Homo sapiens: one gene and its partner. The protein of the gene in region 2 interacts with the protein of the main gene of each other region in a pairwise test. Each region holds a gene or a part of one and is shown on either strand. Other genes may lie near its edges.

The links. Proteins that work in one complex are often made in the same cells at the same time.
Region 1: the proteins of COPS3 (region 2) and COPS7A interact in binary tests that used the Homo sapiens proteins (3 or more experiments, as listed by UniProt).

What each region holds. Positions count from the first base shown.
Region 1 is NC_000012.12:6,726,922-6,730,670, forward strand, and holds part of COPS7A (COP9 signalosome complex subunit 7a), read left to right. Parts: intron 1-1,004; coding exon 1,005-1,080; intron 1,081-1,301; coding exon 1,302-1,390; intron 1,391-2,325; coding exon 2,326-2,528; intron 2,529-3,480; coding exon 3,481-3,586; intron 3,587-3,747; coding exon 3,748-3,749.
Region 2 is NC_000017.11:17,274,537-17,278,285, reverse strand, and holds part of COPS3 (COP9 signalosome complex subunit 3), read left to right. Parts: intron 1-2,102; exon of another isoform or gene 2,103-2,121; coding exon 2,122-2,251; intron 2,252-3,749. UniProt on the Homo sapiens protein: Component of the COP9 signalosome complex (CSN), a complex involved in various cellular and developmental processes.

The DNA.
Region 1 (3,749 bases), on a different chromosome or scaffold from region 2:
TTAGCAAGTATTTCTTGCGAGGCAATTACTGCATAGCTCTGTGGGATACCTGAGACTGGGTCTATAATCTTGTTGAAAGATATTCTTAGGTAGCAACCTTCTGCAAGGATTGATTGATTAAGTGCCAGAATGAAGCTGAGCACAGTGGCTCACGCCTATAATCCCAGCACTTTGGGAGGCCAAGGCAGGTGGATCACCTGAGGTCAGGAGTTCGAGACCAGCCTGGCCAATGTGGCGAAACCCTGTTTCTACTAAAAATACAAAAATTAGCCTGGTGTGGTGGTGCACGCCTGTAATCCCACCTGCTTGGGAGGCTGAGGCAGGAGAATTGCCTGAACCTGGGAGGCGGAGGTTGCAGTGAGCCAAGATCGCGCCACTGCACTCCAGCCTGGGTAACAGAGGGAGACTCTGTCTCAAAAAAAAAAAAAAAAAAAAGTGCCAGAATGAGTGATCCATGATAGGAGGAGAGGAAATCTGGGTGGACTGGGCTGGGTGATGCAAGACAGTGTCCTGGTCAGGTGTGTCTGAAGCAGAGACCATAAGTTTAGATGTCTTTCTAGGCTGTGCAGCTGTCAGAGATGAGTGAGGCTGAGGCAGGAGTCTGGTGAATTGGGGAGTACTGGAGACTGTCTAGACATATTCCAATTTAGAAACATCAAACACTCTGAGGGCAGGCAACACAATTTGCAGTGTCTGGTGTGTATGTCTGTTTGACTCTGAAAACTGAATGTCTTCAACTCTGAATTTAGGGTAGGAATTGGATGACGTATGGAGCAAGAGGGCATTGTGGTTTGGGAGAATAGTGTAAACAAAAGCCTGAAGGTGGAAATGAGCCCTTCCTATGTGAAGAGTGATCAGAGAGGCAGAGAACTCCTTTTGGTGAGCCAGGAGAGTTAACATTGGCCGGGAAAGATGGGGCCAAAAAGTGGAGTTCCAAACAGGGTAAGGCTGGGAGGGTGGAGAGGGAAGACTTCCCGTCACCTCCTTTTTCCTCATTCTCGCAGCTGGCTGAGAGTGACTTTGCCTCTACCTTCCGGCTGCTCACAGTGTTTGCTTATGGGACATACGCTGACTACTTAGGTAACCAGAGGGGTTGGTGCTCTGGAGTAATGGAGATGGGAGAAGGGCAATTTCTGGAGGGACTCAGAAGAAATTCCTGGGATATCCCACTTAGATCCCTGGATGCATAGGGTCAGGGTCAAGACCTGAATTGGCATTGAAAGTGGGAGGGAAGGGAAGGAGGCTAGGGCTTCCCAGAAAACTGAAATCAGGATTCCTTACACTTTGTCGTTTTTCCCTAGCTGAAGCCCGGAATCTTCCTCCACTAACAGAGGCTCAGAAGAATAAGCTTCGACACCTCTCAGTTGTCACCCTGGCTGCTAAAGTAAAGGTGAGTGGCAGTCCCCCAGTCCTACGGTCTAGAGCATCCTTTTGTATGTCCTTGGGAGTCCACACTAGGACAGCCCTTGTCTAGACCGTGGCTGCTTCCTGCCCTCCCCTCCTCCAAGGTCTGTATATAAACTCCATTAGCAACTGTTTAGGCTGATAGTATTCTTAGTTTTCTGTGTTGTTTTTATTTTTTAATCAACTTAAGTTCTAAATAAACATCTTCTGTGGTTTTGGTCAAAATAGCAACTAGGATGTTGTTCAGGTGTCGTTCAACAATACCTTCTTCCCCACTGCTGGAAACAGGGCTCTCCTGATGAAGTGCTAGGCTTCTCTTTGTTAGGATAAAACATATATATTCTAGAAGTATCTCTGTATTCCTGTTAGGCTGTTTTTTGTCTAATATCACCACCCACCTCCCCAGCCTGCCCAGTCTGCAACCTCGCAATAGTTACTTGACTCTCAGTTGTCCTTGGGATTTAATTTAAACCAGGCTCTCTATTGAGAGATACCTCCAAAGGAATGCCCGTTGCAGGTAGGCAGAGTATAAATGATAAACAGTAACTCCACACCTCTCCCACTTCTGCTTACTCCCCTGTATCAAGCTGATCTTGACTAAGGACTGGGTGATACCCTGAGCTGTGGCTAAAGGAGTGACACCCAGGCAGATGTCATTTTCTCCTTCTGTGGTGTGTCAGGGGTGAGGGTGTTAGGGGAGCATTTTGTATTTTATTTAAGATTGTCCTTCTAATGATGCTGTTTTTGAAGTGGGAATACTTTTATTTATTTTGCTTTAGAACCAGCCTCTTAGAGGAAGTGATTTAGGAATGGGAGTGGAGGGCAGGTGGGCTAGGGCAGGGGGAAAAGGAGGGAAGATTTTTGGAAGCCCTTCTCTACTACGGAGCGTCACAAATCCTGGCCTGATCTCCGCGGCCCCAGTGTATCCCATATGCAGTGTTGCTGGAGGCTCTTGCCCTGCGTAATGTGCGGCAGCTGGAAGACCTTGTGATTGAGGCTGTGTATGCTGACGTGCTTCGTGGCTCCCTGGACCAGCGCAACCAGCGGCTCGAGGTTGACTACAGCATCGGGCGGGACATCCAGCGCCAGGACCTCAGTGCCATTGCCCGAACCCTGCAGGAATGGTGAGAACCGTATCCTGGCACTGTCCCCTTCTCACCCTGAGAAAGAGAAAGGCGCTTCAGGGTGAGAGAGGGCAGGAGCTGGGCTGGTCCGCAGAGGTGGAACCCAAGAGGATGAAGGGAAATGAGTTCATCCCTCCAAAGGCTTCTGGGGAATGCAGGAGTAGGGGAGGCCCTGGGAGGCGGCAGAAGTCAGTGTCCTTGATATAGTAGTTGGGGGAGGAAAAGGGAGTGGTATACTTAAGGGGATCCTAACCAGCAAGGTCGGTCGCCTGTCTTAGGCTAGACTCTGTCGATTGATCTGTAACTACCATTATCCACAGGCCATGACCCTTTTCCTCTTTTTTATTTTCTTTGTGTCCCCATCTAACTTCAGGGTTTCTGTATTCATTAAGTCACCTCTTTTTCTCTTTGGCATCTCCTACCCTATTTTGTTTTCAGTTCCTACTCCCATCTTGCTCATCACTCCAGGCGCTTCCTTATCCCTCTCTGACCACACCGAGTGTCCATCCCACTGCTAGGAGTGTTATCACAGGTGGTTTCTAGGTGCCCTGGTGAGGGTTCCCAACTCAGACTCAAAATGCCAGAAGCTGTGTTCTGGCTCTGTTGCTCAGTTTGGAGTGCAGTGGCACCATCTTGACTCACTGCAGCCTCCAACTTCCAGGGCTCAAGCCACCCTCCACCTCAGTCTCTTGAGTAGCACGGGACTACAGGCTCGTGTCACCACATCCAGCTAGTTTTTGTATTTTTTGTAGAGACGGATTTTTGCCATATCGCTCAGGCTGGTCTTGAACTCCTGAGCTTAAGCAATTCGCCCATCTTGGCCTCCCAAAATGCAGGGATTATGGGGGTGAGCTACTGCGCCCTGCCTCTAGGGTTCTTTTTGAGTCAGTTTTCTGTGAGTCTGTGATCGCAGCCCTTGTCTGCTGACACTTCTCTCCCCTGACTCCTGCAGGTGTGTGGGCTGTGAGGTCGTGCTGTCAGGCATTGAGGAGCAGGTGAGCCGTGCCAACCAACACAAGGAGCAGCAGCTGGGCCTGAAGCAGCAGATTGAGAGTGAGGTGAGCAGTCAGGGGAGCAGGCAGACCCAAACTCCTCCAGCCTGGGCGACTTGTCCTTTGCAGAGAGAATTTGGACAGTGGCTGTAGCAGACAACCAGATGAGCAGGGGCTGGAAGGTTCTGGAACCTTCCTTGCTATCCCCATTCCTTTCATCCTGGTAGGT
Region 2 (3,749 bases):
GCCCATGGACTTAAATATATCCTCACTGTTACCAGAAAGACAGAGTGTGACCATGGTATCTGTCATGACAGTAATTGTCAAAATTGATGGGTCTACTTAAAGGTACCAATTCAGGCCTAATTTTTTTTTTCCCCCGAAACGGAGTCTTGCTCTGTTGCCCAGGCTGGAGTACAGTGGCGCAATCTCAGCTCACTGCAGCCTCCATCTCCCGGGTTCAAGGATTGTCCCAGGTTAAAGGATTCTCCCACCTCAGCCTCCCGAGTAGCTGGGATTACAGGTGTGTGCCACCACACCCAGCTAATTTTTGTATTTTTAGTGGAGACAGGGTTTCACCATGTTGGCCAGCCTGGTCTTGAACTCCTGACCTCGAGATATCTGCCCACCTTATCCTCCCAAAGTGCTGGGATTACAGGTGTGAGCCAGCCTGGTCTTGAACTCCTGACCTCGAGAGATCTGCCCACCTTATCCTCCCAAAGTGCTGGGATTACAGGTGTGAGCCACAGCACCCGGCTGAGGCCTAATTATTAATAGATTCTGTACCTTAGTTGTTAAAATGTAGCATTGCAGGCTGAGTGTGGTGGCTCATGCCTCTAATCCCAGCACTTTGGGAGGCCAAGGTGGGAGGATTGCTTGAGCCCAGGAGTTAGAGACCAGACTGGGCAACATAGTGAGACCCCTGTCTCTGCAAAAAACTTAAAAAATAAGATGGGCATGGTGACGTACACCTGTAGTTCCAGCTACTCGGGAGGCTAAGGTGGGAGGATTGCTTGAGCCCAGGAGATGGAGGCTGCGTTGAGCTGTGATCACACCACTGCACTGCAGCCTGAGCGACAGAATGAGACCCTGTCTCAAAAAACAAAACAAAACAAACATAGTATTGCAGTATAGGGGAAAAATAGATCAATTAGGAGATTAATTCAACAAGTAGCTGCTTGATGAACTGCTAAGCAGGTGATGTATTCTAGAGCTGGAGAAAGGGACAATCCCTCCACCTGAGTTTACTGAAATACCTAACCACTACAGTCCCATGCGAGGCAGAGAGGGCAGATACCCAGCTTAGCCATGGGGAAGGGAGCTGAGATGAGGGTCTAGAGACGCCACAAGTTGATTGCTGAATGCTGGATGAGGCTCAGTCAGGTAGCAGAGGATGTGGGGGAGAAGGACAGAGAACAGCATGTGTAGAAGCATAAAGAGGAGAGAAGATAGAATGTTGATTTTCTGAGCTTGCTGTGATCGAAGAGTAGGTGTGTGAGGGGAAGTAGCAGGAGATAAGGCTGGAAAGGTAGCAGGGACCAGTTATTGAAGGGCCTTAGTTCAGGCTGAGGCGTTTGCACTTCTTAAAGTCATTGGAATAACTTGATTGAATGCACAGTTTATAGAACAGACAGTACTAATATGGAGTGCGGGTTGGAGGAGAGAAAGATCACAGTAGGCAGACCATTTAGAAGATTTATGATGTAGGCTGGGCGCGGTGGATCATGAGGTCAGGAGTTCAAGACCAGCCTGGCCAAGAAGGTGAAACCCCCGTCTCTACTAAAAATACAAAAAAATTAGCCAGGTGCAGTGGCAGGCGCCTGTAATCCCAGCTATTTGGGAGGCTGAGGCAGGAGAATTGCTTGAACTTGGAGGGCGGAGGTTGTAGTGAACCGAGATTGCGCCACTGCACTCCAGCCTGGGCGACACAGTGAAACTCCATCTTAAAAAAAAAAAAAAGATGTAGTCCAGACAAAAAATGATGAGGATCTGAATTAGGGCAGAGAGGGGAGAGAGAAAGAAATGGAGCTGAGAGACTTTGGAAGTAAAACTAAATCATTTGGATGCAGAGAGCTGTTAATAGTAACGTGCATTTCTGGCTTGGGAGACTAGAAAACAGAATAGAGAAAAAGGTGAAACATTCAGGGTCAGAGAGAAGTGGGAGGTCCAGTGTAATCTCTAATTCGTTTTGAGACCACGGACAGGTTGTTTCACTCCTCTGGTCCTTCTGGATCCTCATCCGAAGTGAAGGAGATTAAGAATCAATTTTGGGAACTTCAGGCTCTGAAGTACAAAGTTGTGGTTAGAGTTCCATCAGTTTGGTTAGTGCTGTAGCTGAAATGCAATAGTGTTGTTCCTGTTTTCCAGGGCAAATGACACAGCTTTGTGAACTGATCAACAAGAGTGGGGAACTCCTTGCGAAGAACTTATCCCATCTGGACACTGTGCTCGGGGCTCTGGATGTACAAGAACACTCCTTGGGCGTCCTTGCTGTTTTGTAAGGAGCATCTTCTTTTATAGTTCTGTGCTTGTTAAAATGGAACACTGTGCACTTCCTGGCTTTATTTTTATTTATTTATTTATATTTTTTGAGATGGAGTTTCGCTCTGTCACCCAGGCTGGAGTGCAGTGGCACATTCTTGGCACACTGCAAGCTCCGCCTCCCGGGTTCACTCCATTCTCTTGCCTCAGCCTCTTGAGTAGCTGGGACTACAGGCACTCGCCACCCGCCCCAGCTAATTTTTGTATTTTTAGTAGAGACAGGGTTTCACCATGTTAGCCAGGATGATCTCGATCTCCTGACCTCTTGGTCCGCCCACCTTGGCCTCCCAAAATGCTGGGATTACAGGCGTGAGCCACCACGCCCAGCCCTGGCTTTATTTTTATTTATTTATTTATTTTTTGGTGTAGAAAGTAAACCATTGTAAATAACATTGAGCTCTTTTGCAAAACTAAAGTTATGGCAGTTACAGTTTATTGATTCCAGCTAATAATTGCTTGTTATATTTTGTTCAACTTTATCATTTTTAAAAACTCTTTTATGTATCCGGGCATAAAGAGGTTGCAGTGAGCCAAGGTCGCGCCACTGTACTCTAGCCTGGGTGACAGAGCGAGACTGTCTCAAAAAAATAAAATCAGTTGTTGCAGCTGGGCACAGTGGCTCCCGCCTCTAATCCCAACATTTTGGGAGGCAGAGGCAGGTGGATCACTTGGGGCCAGGAGCTCCAGACCTGCCTGGCCAACTGGTGAAACCCTGTCTCTACTAATAAAAAAACTAGCCGGGTGTGTTGGCGCATGCCTGTAGTCCCAGCTACTCAGGTGGCTGAGGCATGAGAATTGCTTGAGCCTGGAAGGCAGAGGTTGCAGTGAGCCAAGATTGCACCACTGCACTCCAGCCTGGGCGACAGAGGGAGACTCTCTCAAAAAAAAAAAAAAAATCAGTTGTTGCTTTTCCTGCTTTGAGAACATACTAAGGGGGCCAAGAGTGAGAGCTATGGGCTGGCTGGAGGTGGGCAGCAGCTTAAGTTAAAGATGCTGCCACCAGCTGTGTGGTCTATCTGAGAATAACACTGACAGAACAACTGATAGGCAGGACAAGAGGAGTAGAGTGGTGAGAAGAGGGAGGACTCAGGTGATCCTTCCCAAGTAACTCAGACTGCCATGAGAAACACTCCAAGGAGGCACTGGTGATAGGTTTTAGGGGAGAAATCATGTAAACTTAGCACTATTAAGGCATTGGTTGTAAGTAAATTTCAAATTCTTTAAAAAAAAAAAAAAGCACGATTGAAATGTAATTTCAAGAAAAATTAGGCCAGACACAGTGGCTTACATCTGTAATCCCGGCACTTTGGGAGGCCAAGGCGGGTGGATCACAAGTTCAGGAGTTCAAGACCAGCCTGGCCAACATAGTGAGACCCTGTCTCTACTAAAAATACAAAAATTAGCCGGGTGTGGTGGCATGCACCTGTAGTCCCAGCTACTCGGGAGGCTGAGGC